Regions from separate parts of the Homo sapiens genome. Here region 2 is linked to region 1. The links come from fine-mapping of genetic effects on gene expression. A gene starts in region 1. The other region holds a variant in brackets. All regions are shown on one strand. Distances are between the middles of the regions.

Region 1 (9,665 bases):
AGATGTCTACACGATCAAATAAGTGTGGGGAAACACGAGTCGCTAGCTCCCTTATCGTGATCAGCTCAATCCTGATGACGGCTCTGATTCAAGACTCTGATAAGTCCTGCAGCAAGGATAACAAGAAGTCTTTGTTTCCTGGAATTATCAAACCACTGTGACCGAAGAAACTGGTGTCTCATGGAACACACTTGGGAAACGTGGTCCACGCTTTTTGGGAAATGTGGTCATGAGGCTGCATTAGCAAGACCCAGACTGATAAGATCTGGGGTGAAGGAGAAAAAACAGAGGTTTGCAATGAAACAACTCAGCATTCAATGAGTGCGGCAAGCACACATTACTCAGCGGGAGAAGGAGGAAGAGAGTAATTCTGCTGTCTGCCACTCTACCCTGGACCTACAGCAAGAAAAGCAAAGGACTGTGGGGATGGAGATGCTACCCTTTGCTCCCCAGGCTGGGAAGGGCACTTGACTGGAGCTGGAGCTGGCTGAGAAGGAGAGGGGCCCAGTCCTTACCCCAAGGATGGCTCTGCTATCTGCGCGTCGGCTGTCGGTGCTGAGGCTGGCCCGCGTCTGCCTGTGCAGGATCCTGGCATTCCTTTTGCTCCATGGACGCTGCCTCCCTACAAGGAAGCGAGAGCTGCCGTCAGCAGGCACATGTGTGACTGTCGCAGTTACCTGCCACACCGCCAGCACTTCCTGAGAGCCTGCTTGGTAGCAGGCCCTTGGCTGGGCTCTGGGGTGACAAAAGAGGTTTTTTTTGTATAGTGGTGCAATCTCGGTTCACTGCAACCTCCGCCTCCCGCATTCAAGTGATTCTCCTGCCTCAGCCTCTCGAGTAGATGGGATTTCAGGTGCGCACCACCAAGCCTGGCTAATTTTTTGTATTTTTAGTAGAGACAGCGTTTCCCCATGTTAGCCAGGCTGCTCTCAAACTCCTAACCTCCAGGGATCTGCCCGCCTCGGCCTCCCAAAGTATTGGGATTACAGGCATGAGCCACCGCGCCTGGCAGACAAAAGAGGTTCTGACAGAGCACCTCCCTCCAGAACCTGGTCTACTGAGGAGGTGCCAAGTCAGTAGCGACGGTCTGAGAGCTCAGAGCTCTGCTGCGGGGGAGCCAGGAGAAGCACTAGACCCAGACTAGTGGGGTCAGGGAAGGCTTTCTGGAGGAGGAGTTGTCTGAGTTGACTCCTAAGAGTAGGAGCTGGAAAAAGAGCATTCCAGGCAGGAGGAACAGCACATGTTTACCTGGAGGAGAGAGTACATGGCATCTGGAGAAGGCTTGCGGGCTCGGCATGGCGAGATCCAGAGCCAGAGAGGGGAAGTGGCAAGAGATGAGCCACAGTGGGGTGGCTGGGTCAGGCAGAGACCAGCCAGTGCCCAGACTCCAACTTAAACACCAAATCCACCCATCATCTCCGACAGTCAACCAGCCTCTGGTGAGCATCTACTCCATATGCGCCAGACACTGTGCAGAACTGTGCATGGGAGTGGCAGGGTAGGGAAAGCTGTGATCACTACGACACGGGTTTCGGGGAGCCAGGAGCTGGGAGAGTGGCCCAGCCACCAGAGAGAGCCAAAGGATCAGCAGGAGTTACCCAGGAAGGAGGAGGGCGGGGGTAGACAAAGACACCTGGACTGATCTAGGAGGGATGGCTGTTTTTCCATCATTTCTACCACTGGGTATTTACTATATTGACTAAGTTCCAGGCCCTGTGCTGGGAGGGCAGACATGGAAGATGGTCTCCGCCGTCATGGGAGGTAGGTCAATAACCCTGCAATTCCATACGGGGTGGTGGTGACTAGGCAGTAAAGTACCTACAGCTATATAGGCACGGAGGCCATCCAAGCCAACCTCTACCTCACTCTACCCTCCTTGTCAAGGATGGGGCACCCACTGAGGCTGGGTGGTCCAATCACCTGCCCATGGCAGAGCCAGGTCCAGAACTTGGGCCCCTGGACTCCCTGTCACTAATTATTCTAGTCCCTCCTCTTCCAGAAAGCATACCCTGACCACCCCCTACATAACCACCCAGAGCTAATTCCTTCTTCCTCTGGGCTGCCTCTGTAATATTTCTATTAATATGGTGGCCACAGTATATCAGAACTTATGTGTCTTCTGGTTTGCCTGTCCTCCCAGACTGCAGCTCTCAGGAGGCCAGGGATGTTTTCCCAGCCATCCCAGGCCCAAGACAGGCACTTTCTAAAGAATGGCTGAATGAATGAATGAATGAATGAATGAGTCAAGGCATGGAGAGACACTGTGCTGGGCTCTAAGAGCCCCACATCCATCCCACCTGAATCTCCAAGAGGTCTTGGCCCATCAGTGTGTGCCTCAGTTTCTCCATGTGAAAACCTGGAATCAGCTCTACTCTAAGACGAGGCAGTCAGGAACCAGGCTGATTTCCCTCCAACTCCTACAGGCAAGGTCCAGGCCAAGCCAGGCAGCAACCCAGGGTCCGGCCACTTCCCTGAGTTCTGACCCACGGCAGTGATCCCCAGGATTCCCTACAGTCCAGAAAGGTCATTCAAGAGTTTGCAAAGGAAACGGCTTCCTGGTGGGTGTGCCTAAGGGATGGAGAACCACCACATCTAGTCAAGTTCTGGGGGGAAGTCATGAACATTTCCTGTGCCCCCGCTCTGTTTTTTTTTTTGTTTTTTTGAGATGGAATTTTGCTCTTCTTGCCCAAGCTGGAGTGCAATGGCGCGATCTTGGCTCACTGCAACCTCTGCCTGCTGGGTTCAAGCAATTCTCCTGCCTCAGCCTCCCGAATAGCTGGGATTACGGGTGCGCAGCCCCATGCCTGGCTAATTTTTTGTATTTTTAGTAGAGACAAGGTTTCACTATGTTGGCCAGGCTGGTCTCGAACTCCTGACCTCGTGATCTGCCCGCTTCAGCCTCCCAACGTGCTGGGATTACAGGCGTGAGCCACCACGCCCGGCCCTGCACCCCCTGCTCTGTACCCTATGGTCCCTAGAACGCAGAGGGCATCAGACCCCATGCCAAAGCCCTGAGACCAGGAAAACAAGGAAGCAGAGACCAGCCACCCAGTCACTCATCCCTGGCATGTCCACAACAGCCTCCTCCAGCACAGGTCATCTGTCCTTGCCTCACTTCATGAGCCAGAGGAAGACTTGACCTTCATGGAAGCAACACCAGTGAGACTGAGCAATCAGCACTGCCCAGTCTCTCTGAACAAACTCCCACTCCCACATCCCCTCCACAGGAAGTATCAGCAACAGCCGATCTCCTCCCGCTTCTTACAGCCTGTCTGTCTGCCAGGTTGTCTGCTCCAAAGGGCAGAATACAGTTTGGCAGGGGTTAAGAGTACTACTAACAGAAGAGGTGGAAGAGGTCCTTGGGAACTTCGGGCTCCCCCAGTTCCCTTCCTCTTACCAGGTGCTCTCCCTCCACACCTCATTCTCAAAAGGCTTCCTGAGGTAGGGCAGGGGAAGAGGAGTCAGTGGAAGTGTGGCTCACCCAGGAACCGCCCACCCTTCCAGCCAAGTCTCCATCAGGAGGCGGCTACCAGACAACCCCCGACCCATCCCTCCTTCCCAAAAAAGGCAACAATCGCAACAGCTGAGAACCGGCAGACCTCGGTTCACCCCGGTCCAGATCAAGGGGAAGAAGCAGTCAGCGAAAGCAGCAGAATCATCATGAACTCCATGACCCCAGCTATGCCCCTTCAGCCTGGGAGCTCAGTTTGCTGGGTATCCAGCTCACCTAGGGCTGCACCAGGCCTGGACCTCACTGGATCTCGCCTCGCCCTCGGGCCCACCTGAATGCACAGGACTGGGACAGGGTCTGGGTTCTTAGATTCCGGACCGGTCTTCCCAAATATCCCATCCCAGAAAGGCCCCAAGAGCCTAGCCGGGGATCCTGCCCCCAAGTCAGGGCACTGCCCCCATCGGAACGATAGGAAGGAGGGGTGCAAGGGAAGAGAAGGGGACCAGGAACTCAGGAGAAGACAGCTAAGGAAATCTTTGAAAAAGAAATGGCAAGGAGAGAGCCCAGAGGTGGAACCTCTAGGAACGGGAGAGTGTGTGTGGAGGGGTGAGGATCTGGGGGGACCCAGGGGATGACAAGGGGACATGGGGGAGCCGAGGCGGAAACTCCTGGTTTCTGAAGCACAAGGAGGCACAGGGGTGCCTGGGAGGGGGCTCGCGCGCCGCGGAGCCGGCGAGAAGGTGGTGCCCCGGAGACTCCGGGCACTGGGGAGCCCAGAGGTAGGCCGAACACCGCGGGAGGTCCCCAGGGGGCCGGCCCGGAGACAGAGCCCCAGATGCCCCGGGCGCCCCGGGCCGGGCAGCTGGCCGAGGGCGTGTGTAAGTGGGTTTCGAGAGGTGACAGCTCGCGCCCCTTTCCCCACCCCGTCCACTCACCTGGGCTCGCCGCGCCCGGCCGCCCGGCAGGCAGCCCCAGGCCCCGGCCGCTCCGTCCCGCCGCCGGCCGCAGCGCTGCTCCGGCGCCTCCTTTTGTTTGTCCCTCACTGCACCACTCAGCCTCCTCCGCCCCGGAAGTGACGTCACCGCCGGGCGCGAACGCGGCGGCCAGGGCGTCGCCATCTTTATGAGGAGAATTCTAGCGGCGCTTTCTCCCGCTCTCGCCTCCGCGCTAGCGCCCTGCTGCTTCGGGGCGGAAGTAGCGGAGCCGGGCTCGGCCCCCTTAAAGGGACAGGGACTGCTGCAACCTACGGGGTGTACTTGGGAACGAGGGGTGAAGCGGCCCAGGTGAGGGTGAGTAGCTGTGTCGGAGCGCCACTTCCCCAAGGTCAGGTGCCGAGGCTGGGAGGGTCGGCTAACGGTTCCGAGCTTGGTTGTGCTAGAGTGCTTAATGAGTTTGATGCTACTAAGTATAACGGAGTGGCTGCACAGAATGATTGAGCCGCCCGCGGGAATCAACTGCGCGTGCTGCTCGCTGATTCTCGCTCGGACACTGGGGCTGGTCCTGTCTGCACCCAAATCCCCCTCCCACGACCGCGCCGGTGGAGATGATACCCGAGACAACAGAATTCTGGACAGATCTGGGGTTGGAATTGGGTCCCCAGACTCCAACTCTGCAGCTCCATAAATCCCGCTGGGTCCTCGCAAATTCCCTGGCTGATAACAGTACCGGCAACCAAATTAAAAAATAATCCATACAGTGGAATACTGTGCAGCCATTAAGACGAACAATGTTTAATATGCACTAATGTAGGGTGACTTCTAAGATACCTTAGGTTAAAAAAGGAAACAACAGTAAAAACAGCGTTGGGCCGGTTGCGGTGGCTCACGTCTGTAATCCCAGCACTTTGGGAGGCCGAGGCGGGCGGATCACGAGGTCAGGAGATCGAGACCATCCTGGCTAACTTGGTGAAACCTCATCTCTACTAAAAATACAAAAAAATCAGCCGGGCGTGGTGGTGGGCGCCTGTAGTCCCAGCTACTCTGGAGGCTGAGGCAGGAGAATGGCATGAACTCGGGAGGTGGAGCTTGCAGTGAGCCGAGATCGCGCCGCTGCACTCCAGCCTGGGCGACAGAGCGAGACTCCGTCTAAAAAAAGAAAAAACAGCGTTGATGGGTGCTATCCATCTTTGCGTAGAAGGACGCCTGAGGGTGGGCGTATCTGCGGGTGTGCGCGCCAGCTGTCTGATAAGATGCACAAGAAGTTGTTAATTGCGGTTGTCTCCGACAGAATTGGGGTCTTGGGTACCTGGGCCAGGGCGAGAAATTTACTACCATGTGCACAGATAGATAATTAAAAATAAGATGATGAAGATAGTCGTGGCTCCCATCCATCACGTGTTAAGCCAATGCCTAGTTTCACTTCTGTTGGGAGGTCTTATTTTTCCCTTTTAATAGAAGAGAAAAGAACCTTAGAGAGGTTAGGAAACTTAGCAATATCATAGCCAGGGCCGGGCGCGGTGGTTCACACCTGTAATCCCAGCACTTTGGGAGGCTGAGGCGGGCGGATCACGAGGTCAGTAGATCGAGACCATCCTGGCTAACACGGTGAAACCCCGTCTCTACTAAAAATACAAAAAAATTAGCCGGGTGTGGTGGCGAGCGCCTGTGGTCCCAGCTACTCGGGAGGCTGAGGCAGGAGAATGGCATGAACCTGGGAGGCAGAGCTTGCAGTGAGCTGAGATTGGGCCACTGCACTTCAGCCTGGGCAACAGAGCAAGACTCCGTCTAAAAAAAAAAAAAAATCATAGCCAGGAAGTGGAGAAGCTGGAATTTGAACCCTGGGAGATTTACACTAATGCCCATGATCTAGCTTATCCCTCGCCACTGAGATGCTTTTTCTGTTGTCAGTCACGCAACACCCGTCTTGGGGCCTGGCACACAACAGGCATCCAGTAACTATTTATTGACATGATGTGTGGTGTGAAAAGCAAACGTTGAAGGTCAGAGCCCAGGCTTAAAGTCCAGGGCTTGGGCACCTCTTTCCAACCTGTGGACTGTGGGCCTGCCAGGTACTCCGTGGGCCTCCATGTCCCCGCCTGTAAAATGAACAACCAGAACCACAGTTGTAGACAGTGAATGTTCCCACGTATTATACTTTGTATTTTACACGCAGATAAGTCTCATTTTACAGATAAGTGAGGCACAGAGAGATTAAGAAAGTTGCCAGAAGGGGGTTCCTACAGGTCTCCCTCCCTCCCTAGGAAGGCTGCTGGGCTCCCAGGCCTCTCCCTTAGCTTCCCAGGATCATCTGTGCTAATGCCTGGGGGACCTACTCTGTGCTGGGTGAGCTGCCAGAGGCTGAGGATCTGGTGGAGAACAGGTCAAGCACATAGTTCCTGTCCTTGGAGTTGAGCGCCCCCGTGCTGAGTACTTTGAGGGCGGAAGCCCAGGTCTTGGGACCACCTGGGAGGGGACATGTGGCTTAGCCTGGGTGGAGTCAGAAGGGGCTTCTCCAAGGAAGGGACTTTCAATGTGACTGGAAACTAGGATGTCCAGAAGGAGAAATGATGAGGCTGGAGACTCAAGGAGAGATGGGCTCCTACCCTGGACTTGGCCTTGGTGTCCACTAAGAAACTGAGGGTGACCAACAGGATTGGAGAATATACAAGTTAGACCCATTCAGTCTGGCTTCAGCAGGAATCTTTCCTCCCGGAGAATGCCTCCATTAGGTGCCAACCACCAGAACGCCACACTAACCTCTCCAAGCTCCAAAGAGTAGGGCGCCTGATTTTATAATCCAGGTGGGGGCGATAAAGGAATGCAGGAGCCTTCACAGCCATGAGGCAGTCACTGTAACTCCTGCCAGAACAGACCTGGGGCCACATCCCACTCCTGGATGGCACTGCCAGTTCCCTGCATAATTCCTTTTTTTTTTTTTGAGACGGAGTCTCACTCTGTCGCCCAGGCTGGAGTGCAGTGGTGCAATCTCGGCTCACTGCAAGCTCCACCTCCCGGGTTCACTCCATTCTCCTGCCTCAGCCTCCCAAGTAGCTGGGACTACAGGCACCCGCCACCACGCCTGGCTAATTTTTTGTATTTTTAGTAGAGACGGGGTTTCACCGTGTTAGCCAGGATGGTCTCTATCTCCTGACCTTGTGATCCGCCCACCTCGGCCTCCCAAAGTGCTGGGATTACAGGCGTGAGCCACCGCGCCCGGCCTCCCGGCATAATTTTTAAAATGCTCATCCTATGCCCTCATTCCCCAGCTTGCAGCTGGGGGCCTCCTGGTGCTTTTCTGGGACTTCGAGTAAGTCATTTCCCCTCTCTAAGCCTCAGTTTCCCCACCTGTAAAGCTGATGCCACCTCCTCCAAGGCTCCCGCGAGGCTATCTGCCTATCTGTTGTGTGTTCCTTTAATGTATGGGAGTGAGATTGTGGTTTTTGAATCTGGGTCCTGTGCCAGGAGGAATAAGTGGTGAGATACCTACTGTTTGTGTCACTCAGGTCTTCCACCAACCCCTCCAGCCTGTAAACCTGCCGTCTGGACTCCAGAAGTCATTTCTCTCTCCTCTGCCAATTCCTAAGCCCAGGGGGACTGTGTCTGAGTGACGCAATTGTTAGATCTCCTCAGACAGGCTGTTCTCTCCAGGAAAACATTGGCTCAACAAATTGTCACCAAACATTTGTCTTCAGGGAATTCTGTTTTTTTTCTATCAAAAAAAATTTGGATTCATTATATAATAAGAGATTTTTCATTTTGCTTGGTTACTAATTTTATGGAAAGCCTGGTAGGTTTAAATGTTAATAGCTTGTTGACTGGGTGTGGTGGTTCATGCCTATAATCCCAGTAATTTGGAAGGCTGAGGTGGGACTATCGCTTGAGCTCAGGAGTTCGAGACCAACCTGGGCAACGTGGTAAAACCCCATCTCTATCAAAAATACAAAAATTAGCTGGGTGTGGTGGCACGTGCCTGTGGTCCCAGCTACTCTGGAGGCTGAGGTACAAGAATCGCTTGAAACTGGGAGGCAGAGGTTGCAGTGAGCCGAGATTGTGCCACTGCACTCCAGCCTGGGCGATAGAGCAAGACTGTCTCAAAAAAAAAAAAAAGTTAATAGCTTGTTGTCATTGACAAGTGGCTGTGAGCCAGGACCCACAGTATATTCTCTGTGGATTCTTGTCACCTTCATTGTACAGATGAGGAAGCTGAGCCCCCAAGAGGCTGCGGCCTGGCATGACCAAGGTCCCATAGCTAGTTTATGGTGGAGCTGGGACTATTTGATCCAAGTCCAAGGTTTGGTCTTCTGTGGTTATTCATGCACTAGACTGGTCTTCCTGGGCATGGTATCCCCAGTTCTGTACCCTTTCTCTAGAGGTGCCACGATGTGTGTTGTCTCAGTAACTGGGAGTCTCCTGGCATTTTAAGCCCAGGGATGCTAAACATCCTTCAAGGCTCCAGATAGCTCTCCCCAGTGAAGAACTGACTCATCTCAAATTCTAAGTGTGCCCCTATTGAGAAGCTCCAAAACCGAATGTCATAATTGACTTGAGTGATGTGACGTGGGGCCACCCTGGGAAGGCATGGTCACCTCGCCTGCCCTTGTAAGCAGCCATGCAAGGTGAAGTTGGACAAGACATGGCTCCTGTCCCCAAGGGGCTGGTGGTCTCCTGTCAGCCCTAGCACCCGCCTGAGAGGAGATTTCACGGGACAGAATTTGGACTTTGGAAATAGGCAAACCAGGGTTTGAATCACAGCTGGAGCTCTCTAGGCTGAGTGAGTTTTCCTTGTTCTCCTTTTGAGCAAAATAGAGTAAATAATACCATCCTAATCAGCTGTGATGAGGATTAGAGAATTTAGCATGGGGTTGGGGGAGAGGGTCAGGCACAGGTAGGTGCTTTCTGAGTTCAGCAAAGGGCCTGGGTGGACACAGAAGCTTCAGAGAGGAGGTACAGGTGGGGCTAGGCCCTGCTAGGGATTTTGGATTGGAGGGTATGCCAGGCAGGGGAAACAGCTTGAGTGAAGATGGGCAACATTTATTCAAAAGCAAAGGGTGGCTGGGCACAGTGGTTCACACCTGTAATTCCAGCAATTTGGGAGGTCAAGGCAGGCAGATCACCAGAGGCCAGAAGTTCAAGACCAGCCTGGCCAACATGGTGAAACCCCATCTCTACAAAAATACAAAAATTAGCCGAGCATGATGGTGGGTGCCTGTAATCCCAGCTACTCGGGAGGCTGAGGTGGGAGAATCACTTGAACCCGGGAGGCAGAGGTTGCAGTG
Region 2 (9,437 bases), 26 kb before region 1:
AATTGAAACTGAGGTGTAGGACAGGACCCCCCTGCCATCCACACCCCCCCCCATAGCCCCACCTCTGCTCTCCAGGATGCCCACATTCCTGGGCAGCCCATCTCACTGCTCCTCCCCACCAGAACCTCCTGGACTGTCCCTTTCCCCTCCACCTGGCTTCCTCCTCCTCGTTCTTCAGGGGCCTGTTCCTCTGTGTTCCCAGGGACCTGGTGCTCCAGCAGAGCGCCTACGCACTGTGCTAACTGCCTCGTTACTTGGCCTTCTTCATCCCCATGTCCCCGGCGCCTTGCTCCATAGCTGGATTCTAGAAGTGCTCAAAAAACATCTGCACAAAGGCCAGGCGAAGTGGCTCATGCCTGTAATACCAGCACTTTGGGCGGCCAAGGTGGGAGGCTTTGAGGCCAGGAGTTTAAAGACCAGCCTAGAAAACACAGTGAGACCCTGTCTCTACCAAAAAAACAAACAAACAAAACATAACAATTTGCACACATCAGTAAACGAGTGAACGAATGAATACTGTCTTGTCAAGGCTTTCATTAGCAAGAGTATAAATCTGGAGAAACAGCACGCAAGGGCGTGGGCAGGCCACGCCCACCCCTCCTGGTCACCACTGGCCAAGGTGGCTGAGAAGGAGCCATCAAGCCCGAGTGAGGAGGAAGAGGGGCTCAGGCCTCCCACTCAGAATGAGGGGCCTGCCTGGGGTTGGCCCAAGTGAACTGTTTTCCCTATTAAGGCTCTGGTGTTCCAGGGGGTGGGGACAGGATGTGATTAAGCCATGTGCTAAACAGGGTGTCCAGAGGGTCTCCTTCCTCTGGGACAGCGTGCTTGCCGCCAGCTCCTTTCCTGAGGGGTGACCTCAGCCAGCAGGCATGACACTAACAGGCAAGCTTGGCGGGAGGAGCTGGGGGTGGGGGACAGGATGGGGAGCCAGGCTGGAGGCTTGAACCCTCCCCCAACCAGGAGGACAGCCCCAGCACAGCACCCGGGACAGGGCAGGAATGGCAGGAGCTGTGAGGAAGTCCCAGCTTATCAAGGGCAGCACTGTGCTATGGGGAAGCCACAGGGTCTCCCCCTCCACAGATTAAAGAAGGGCTGGGTTTGTTCTGTGCTTCCCAAATGTGGCTTCTCCCCAGGGGACTCCAGTTTTCCTATTCAGTGGGCCTGTCCCGAAACTACAAGAGAAAACCCTGCCCTGGTCCACTCTCCCACTGTGCTCAAGTCATAATATGGGGTGGCCGGAGATAAGGACTTGTCAAAATCCCTGATACATGTGGGTTGCAGGTTGCTCTGCAGTAAGGGAGCCCTGGGGAAGAGGGGAGGAAGGCTTCCAAGCCAGCAGGCATCTGGAGGGCCTGAAGCATCTAGTCTGAGTGATGCTGGAGAAGGTGTGTCCTGTCCTGGGGCCCAGGAGGACAGACAGGGCATTCCAGGGGCCACCTCCCTCCGTGCCTGAGGATACTATAGACAGACCGGGCATTCCAGGGGCCACCTCCCTCCGTGCCTGAGGATGCTATAGACAGACCCTGTTGGGAGGACTCAGCAGGTTGGTGGAAGGAGGACAGGTGCATCATGCCTGGCACAGGGCGAACACAGAGCAGGTGCCCACGAAACCAACAGGGACTGCACCGTGGGGCTGCTGCATGGCAGATGCACCCAACAGCAACAACCGAACTAAGAAACGCGGGTTGCCACACGGAGGCTGCAGAGGGGAGGGTGCTTAGTGAAAATGCTCTATGAGCTGCACGCTTTTTATAAGCAGGAGTGGTTTTCCTATTTGGCTCACTGCTGCTGGACCACCCTGTAAGTAAGTTCCCCCAAATAAACCCCATGTTTCAATGGCCGGCTCCAGGGCTCTTCATTTTACTTTGAGACTGGGTCTCACTCTATTGCCCAGGCTGAAGTACAGTGGTACAACCATAGCTCACTGCAGTCTTGAACTCCTAGGCTGAAGCGATCCTGCCTCAGCCTCCCAAATAGCTGGGACTACAGGCACATGCCACCATGCCTGGATCATTTCTGTATTTTTGGTAGAGATGGGGTTTCCCTATGTTGCCCAGGCTGGTCTCGAACTCCTGAGCTCAAGTGACCGCCCCACCTTGGCTTCCCTAAGTGCTCGGATTACAGGTTTGACCCACTGGGCCTGGTCAACTCCGAGTCTCTTCTTCAGCCTCCTGAACCTGGTGGCATCCCTAGTGAAGTTCACAGGGGCCCGGCACGACAGCTGCTGCTGTGTCGGGGGCAGAAGGGTGGCTGGCTGGGCTCTCCCTTGTCTCCCAGCGCCTGGCCTCAGGCTTCCTCCACCACATGTCTCACTACAGGAATCTCCACCTGGATGTGAGGCCCAGGAAAACCTGCAGGTCCCCAGGACGGGTGGAAGAGGGACGTTCCCCACAATGGCAGTGGCTTTGTTTCCATTTCGGAGGCCAGACCACAGAGCCACAGGAGTACCCAGCCCTCCATCCACACTGCCTGCCTCCACCAAGGGGCCCTTGGATGGGGGCTTCCCCAGCCAGGTAAGAGACTGGCACCCACAGACCACCAACAGTCTTGAAAGTATGTCGAAGGTGTGGCCTCCCAAACTCCCAGTGACAATGATTTGCACAATTTCCTTTTCAGAAGGGCAGGCAGAAACAAACTAGCCCCATCTAGGCCCAACTCTGCCTCTGACACCACCAAATGCAGTGGAGAAAGGTGTGTGGGAGCTGCAGAGACCATCCAAGGCTTCCCCTCAGCCAGCACTGGCCACCCACACAGTTTCTGTCCTGGGTGGACCCGGATTGGCTCCTTGCCTCCAAGTCCGACTGGGAACAAGCTGAGGAAGACACAAACTCCAGGCTAAGTCTTGACTCCCACCACCCGGCTTTGCGAGAGAACCCCCGGGTTTGGACCTCCTGCCCAAGCACATCCCTGCTGAAGAGGAACCCGGCTCAAGGTCACCTTGGGGGACAGACCTTGCCTGGCCATGCAGTCTCTCCAGGCAGGAGAACTGCAACATTTTGGAGCAAAGACAGGCCCGGGGCCCAGAGATTCGGATTCAGCAGGCCTGGGATGGGGCCCAAGGAGTCTGTCTCTTGAACAGAGCTTCTATCCTGGATGGTTCTGTAAACCCCAGGTGAGGACTCCACACTCAGGGGCATCGACGGTCCCAGGACACTGAGCCTGCCGAGTGCCCCACCACAAGCCCTGGCCAGGCCACCCGCCAGCCCACACGCAGAGCTGTGGCCGGGCCACTCACCCGGTTGGCCGTGATGGCTAGGTTCTGGAGGTTCTGCAGGAGGCCGATGTCGGCAGGGAGGAAGGTCAGGTTGTTGTGGCTGAGGTCCAGGTAGCGCAGCTTGCGGCAGTAGAAGAGCTGGGTGGGGATCTTCTCGATCTTGTTGCGGTTCAGGTAGAGGCGCTCCAGGTTGGTGAGGTTGCCGATCTGGATGGGGATGTAGGCGATGTGGTTGTACCACAGCTTAAGGCAGGTGAGGCGGTGCAGGTGCTGGAAGCTGATGATCTCCTCGATGGTCTTGAGGTTGTTGTCCTTGAGGTCAATCTCCTGCAGGTTGTGGAGGCTGAAGATGGAGTGGGGGATGCGCTCCAGGTCACAGCGGATCAGCTCCAGCTCAGTCAGGTTCGCCATCTTCTTGAGGCTGTTGAGGACGATGAGCTTGGTGCCCTCATTGTTGATGGACAGCTTCTGCAGGTGCACGCCCACATCTGTGACCACCTGTGGCAGCTTGCTTAGGTTGCTCTTGAGCCGCAGCACCTTGAGGCGTTTGAGCTCCCGCAGCCCGTCGATGACGATGTAGCGGTTGTTCTCCGCGCTCAGGTTGCCCGTCAGGTGCAGCTCCTCCAGTGTCTTCAGGCTATAGATCCACAGCGGGATCTCCTTGATGTCGGTGAACTTGATGTGCAGCGCCCGCAGGTTCTCACGCAGGAAGGCCAGCGCGGGCGCTTCAATCTTGGCCGCTGTGTGGTAGAGCCACAGCTCCTTGAGGCCCGTGAGCTGGGCAATGCTGGGCGGGATGGTCACGTCGGGGATCAGCTCCAGCTTGAGGACCTCCAGCTCCACCAGGTCAAACACAGTGTCAGGGATGCCACTGAGCATGAACAGGTGCAGCTCCAGCTTGTCCTGCGCGTTCTTGGTGAGCCGCTGCCGGAGCTTGTCCAGCGTCCACTCGTTGTTGAGGTTCAGCTGCCGCAGCTTGTTCTCACTCACCTCCGACAGGAAGACGGCGAAGCGCTTGGAGTAGAGCGGGTCGTATTGGTCAATGAGGTGCAGCATGAAGGCGAAGTCGTTCTTGACGTCGGGGATGTCGCTGTAGCTGCTCTCCTCACGGATCGACTCAAACGAGTACTTCTTGAGGGAGCGCCGTAGCATCCACCACAGTGTATACATGCAGATGAGGCCGTAGAAGATGACTAGGCTGATGTAGAAGGACGCCAGGATCTTGAAGAGTGTGGCCAGGGGGTGGGCACAGCGGTAGGTGCGGTAGCCCGTCAGGCTCTCAATGTCCACGGTGCAGTCCACGTCGAACTTGATGTTGTGCACGTAGTAGACGGTGTAGCAGATGATGAGGATGAACTTGATCACCTTGATGATGGTCTGCCGCATGTAGAGGCGGTACACAATGTCCCCCTCCTCCACATGGGTCCGGAACTTCTTCACCTTCTCAAACAGCGCCTTGGCTTGCTCCCCCTCCTTCTTGTCCAGCACGCCCGTCTCTGAGCGGTCCACGATACCCTGCTCGATCCGTGACTTGGTCCGCTGCAGCATGGGCACGGTGGCCTCCACGTCCTCACTGACGGTCGATGACTTTTTGTCCATGGACCCATTCATCTTGCTGAAGGCCGGCTTGGGGTCGCTCTCCTCCACCACTGTCTCCGACAGGGCCCTCGTGGTCCAGGGCGAGTCGAAGCACTTCAGCAGGATAGACACAAAGTGCTCCAGCTTCGAGCTGGTGCGCGGGAATTTGAACCAGAAGTTGCTGCAGGCCAGGAAGATGAGCGTGTGCAGAAGCACCAGGTAGGGGAAGTACTTGGCAAACCAGTGCAGTCGGTTCTCATAGCACACAGCGTCCACGTAGTTGTACTGGTGCCGGTCCAGGTCATACTTGATGCCTGTGGGGCCCGTGTCAGGGGTCGGCAGAATGGTGGAGTTGGGGTAGGTGGGCTCCGGGCCAGGGGCTGCCCAGCCCCGGAACGAATCATTGCAGGAGTCCTTGGTGACCCACTTACAAGGCAGGCAGATCATCTTGTCTTGGGTGACCTGCAGCGTCCCCCCGAAGACGGCAATCATCAGCATGACGATAGAGATGTAGTCTGTGAACACATCCCACCACGGCTTCAGGATCCGGTATGCTGGCTGCGTGTCCGCAAAGTAGCGGAGCTCTGTCACCGGAATCATGGTTCAACCTAAAAGGGAGCCATAGGAGGGGGGTTAGCACAGGGTGGCCTGGCTTTCCTAGGACCAGGGGTCAGGGGAAGAAGACAATGAAAATTCTTCCATTGTCCAAAATTCCACCTCAAATCTAGCTGGGAGCCAAAGCCTGCCTACTCCACGGGGCAGCCCACTTATCAGCCCTTCTGCAGAAAGCATGTGGCCACTTGGCTGGGAAACCACCCTGGGGGAGGCAGGCAGGCTCCCCATTTAATACACAGGAAGACTGAGCACAGTGAGATTAGACAGATCCCCAGTGCAGCCTCAGGGTTCTCTGCTCCATCCCTTGCATTCCAGTAAGAGCAATCGGGAACTCCTTTCTAAAGTCCACCTATTTAATGAACAGATTGACCAGAGGGACACATTTAAAACTCCCAGTTCACTGGGAACCAGCTGCTGTAAAGCTGCAGCAAAGGGCTGGAGGGATTCCCGCAAAATATGAGGAAAGAAAGCAACATGCAGAGGGGGCACAACATGAACTCACTTCCATAAAACAAAGAGCAAGGTTTAAAAATTCCACGTGGTTCACGTCTGTAATCCCAGCACTTTGGGAGGCCGAGGTGGGTGGATCACCTGAAGTCAGAAGTTCAAGACCAGCCTGGCCAACATGGTGAAACTCGGTCTCTACTAAAAATACAAAAATTAGCCTGGCGTAGTGGCGGGTGCCTGTAATCCCAGCTATTCGGGAGGCTGAGACAGGAGAATCACTTGAACCCGGGAGGTGGAGGTTGCAGTGAGCTGAGATTGTGCCATTGCACTCCAGCCTGGGCGACAAGAGTGAAACTCCAACTCAAAAAAAAAAAAAAAAAAAAAAATTCCACATGGGGGCTG[GCA/A]TGGTGGCTCACGCCTGTAATCCTAGCCTGTAATCCCAGCATTTTGGGAGGATGAAGTGGGAGGATCGCTTGAGTCCAGGAGGTTGAAGCTGCAGTGAGCTATGACCCCGTCGCTGTACTCCAGCCTGGGTGACAGAGACCCTGCTTCAACAACAAAATTCCACATGTGTGTATAGTTATGTGTGTACAAGATTCTGGGAACACTCGGAAGACCAAAGGTCACATAGTGGGTCTTAATGACAGGCTCCTAGGGGAGCGGCCTCAAGAGAGGGGATTAAGAATAAGGCTCTCCTCCCTCACAAACTGGGTGATCACAGAGAGGCCTTAATGTAAAATCATCTCTGGTTGCGTGTGTATAAAGGAATTAAAAACAGCAGCAACAGCAGGCTCTCCCAGAGAGAGTCTAGTTTGACTACTATGGCGAGAAGCTGGAAATCTGATTTTTCTTTTTTTTTTGAGACGGAGTCTTGCTCTGTCGCCAGGCTGGAGTGCAGTGGCATCATTTCGGCTCACTGCAACCTCTGCCTCCAGGGTTCAAGTGATTCTCCTGCCTCAGCCTCCCGAGTAGCTGGGACTACAGGCCTGCACCACCATGCCCAGGTAATTTTTGTGTTTTTTAGTAGAGACAAGGTTTCACGATGTTGACCAGGATGGTCTCGATCCCTTTACCTCCTGATCTGCCCGTCTCAGCCTCCCAAAGTGCTGGGATTACAGGAGTGAGCCACCGTGCCTGGCTGGGAACCTGATTTTTAACACATAACTTTGGTGACTCTAATGATTGGCCAAGCTTGGGAAACACTGGCTGAGAAGCCACATTAGGAAACCCAGACTGTGCTACACAGGAGGCACGCAGCAAGATCTCTGTGAGAATGCCTCTCTGTGGCCATTCGTGGTCACACGGCCAAGGCTGGTTGCTCTTACAATGAAAGACGTATGGCTGTCACGGAGGGATAAGGTACTAGATGTTCCCTGGAGAACATACGGAAAATTGTAAAAAAGCGTAGCAGCAAAAAAAGAAGAATCCGCTTTACAATCCCCACCAGGGTTACACACTGTTAACTTTTCACTGAATAATAACCTTCCAGTCCTTTCTGTGTATTTTATAATTTTATAATTTTTCTTGTAAGAGATTGGATCTTGCTCTGTTGCCCAAACTAGAGTGCGGTGGCGTGATCATGGCTCACTGCAGCCTCAACCTCCTGGTCAAGCAATCCTCCTACCTTAGCCTCCCCCAGGTAGCTGGGGCTACAGGTGTGTGCCACCATGCCTGGCTAATTTTTTTTTTTTTTTTTTTTTTTTTTGAGACGGAGTCTCGCTCTGTTGCCTAGGCTGGAGTGCAGTGGTGCGATCTTGGCTCACTGCAAGCTCCGCCTCCCAGATTCACGCCATTCTCCTGCCTCAGCCTTCCAAGTAGCTGGGACTACAGGCACCCGCCCACCACACCCGGCTAATTTTTTTTTGTATTTTTAGTAGAGACGGGGTTTCACCGTGTTAGCCAGGATGGTCTCGTTCTCCTGACCTTGTGATCCGCCCGCCTTGGCCTCCCAAAGTACTGGGATTACAGGTGTGAACCACCATACCTGGCCCATGCCCGGCTAATTTTTAAAATTTTTTGTAGAGACAGGATCTCACTATGTTGGCCAAGTTGGTTTCAAACTCCTGGCCTCAAGCAATCCTCTGGCCTTAGCCTCCCAAAGTGTTGGCATTACAGGAGTGAGGCACTGCACCCAGCCCTTTCTGTGTATTAGAATAAATTGTGCTTTTATTTATTTATTTATTTAGAGACAGAGTATTGCTCTGTCACCCAGGCTGGAGTGCAGTGGCACAATCTCAGCTCACCACAGCCTCCGCCTCCTGGGTTCACATGATTCTCCTGCCTCTGCCTCCCAAGCAGCTGGATTACAGGCACACGCTACCACGCCCAGCTAATTTTTGTATTTTTAGTAGAAACGGAATTTCGCCACGTTGGCCAGGCTGGTCTCGAACTCCTGACCTGAGGTGATCCACCTGCCACGGCCTCCCACAGTGCTGGGATTATAGGTGTGAGTCACCATGCCTGGCCAAATTGTGCTTTTACTTTACATTCAATTTTTACTTTACACTGTAACCCAGAACCTAGATTTTTATCTAAACCAAGTTTTAAATGCCTGTGTCAAATGTGTCTGTCTCTCTTAGGAGAGGAACAGGGGTGCCCAGATGATGGGCCACCTTTCTTTGATTACTGATAATGTTAATAACCAGAATAGTAACAAACTTTTTTTTTTTCCCTTTTTGAGACAGTCTCACTCTGTCACCCAGGCTGGGGTGCAGTGGCATGATCCTGACTCACTGCAACCTCTGCCTCCTGGGTTTAAGTGATTCTCATGTTTCAATCTCCCAAGTGGCTGGGATTACAGACGCCCGCCACCACATCCAGCTAATTTTTGTATTTTTAGTAGAGACGGTGTTTTGCCATGTTGGCCGGGCTGGTCTTGAATTCCTGGCCTCAACCAATCCACCTGCCTTGGCCTCCCAAAGTTCTGGGATTACAGGCGTGAGCCACCGTGCCCGGCCTAGGTAGGAACTCTTTAAGAACAGCACTTCTCGGGCCAGGCACAGAGGCTCACGCCTGTAATCCCAGCACTTTGGGAGGCCAAGGCGGGCGGATCACGAGGTCAGGAGATCGAGACCATCCTGGCTAACAAGGTGAAACTCCGTCTCTACTAAAAATACAAAAAAATTAGCCGGGCATAGTGGCAGGCGCCTGTAGTCCCAGCTGCTTGGAAGGCTGAGGCAGGAGAATGGCGTGAACCCGGGAAGTGGAGCTTGCAGTGAGCCGAGATCACGCCACTGCACTCCAGCCTGGGTGACAGAGCGAGGTGCCGACTCAAAAAAAAAAAAAAAAAAGAACAGCACCTCTCTGCAAATGCCAAACACTCCCCAGCCCCAATCTTTCTAGGCTATGCTGGATGGGGAGGACAGGAGGAAGGCAGAGCAGGACCCCATGTGAGGCAGGTGGAATGGGGCACTCAGCAAGGGTGATGATGGCCACAGCCAGTGCTGAGGGCCTGGAAGTGTGCCAGGCACCAGGCAGGCCTCCCCTGCAGGCCCTCCTAGGGTCATCCTTGATGCCCAAGAGGCCAGGCCTCTATAGCCCCATCCCAGAGATGGGGGTGCTAAGGCTCAGGAAGGTGACATCA

What was found. PIP is the estimated chance that this variant, and not a neighbour inherited with it, causes the effect.
Region 2: its variant is the best candidate, but not a certain one, in a credible set for the expression of LRRC8A in tibial nerve (GTEx, PIP 0.50).

Annotation. Positions count from the first base shown.
Region 1 is chr9:128,876,972-128,886,636 of GRCh38, reverse strand. LRRC8A (leucine rich repeat containing 8 VRAC subunit A) reads right to left here and starts at 4,504. Exons shown (of 4, transcript NM_019594.4): 1 at 4,387-4,504; 2 at 516-622. It overlaps KYAT1-SPOUT1 (KYAT1-SPOUT1 readthrough), which reads left to right and starts at 4,687. Exons shown (of 25, transcript NR_182311.1): 1 at 4,687-4,740. It overlaps KYAT1 (kynurenine aminotransferase 1), which reads left to right and starts at 4,687. Exons shown (of 13, transcript NM_004059.5): 1 at 4,687-4,740. RefSeq lists enhancers at 429-1,191, 4,468-4,617 and a silencer at 4,158-4,437.
Region 2 is chr9:128,903,120-128,912,556 of GRCh38, reverse strand. It overlaps LRRC8A (leucine rich repeat containing 8 VRAC subunit A), which reads right to left. Exons shown (of 4, transcript NM_019594.4): 3 at 3,236-5,400. The coding sequence starts at 5,392. LOC101929291 (a long non-coding RNA gene) reads left to right here. Exons shown (of 4, transcript XR_007061808.1): 3 at 2,319-2,513; 4 at 2,617-3,242. Among named protein-coding and RNA genes, the nearest start is that of PHYHD1, 13 kb to the left of the region's middle. RefSeq lists an enhancer at 2,032-2,815 and a silencer at 8,644-8,816. The variant GCA/A (reference allele first, on the strand shown) is at 6,257.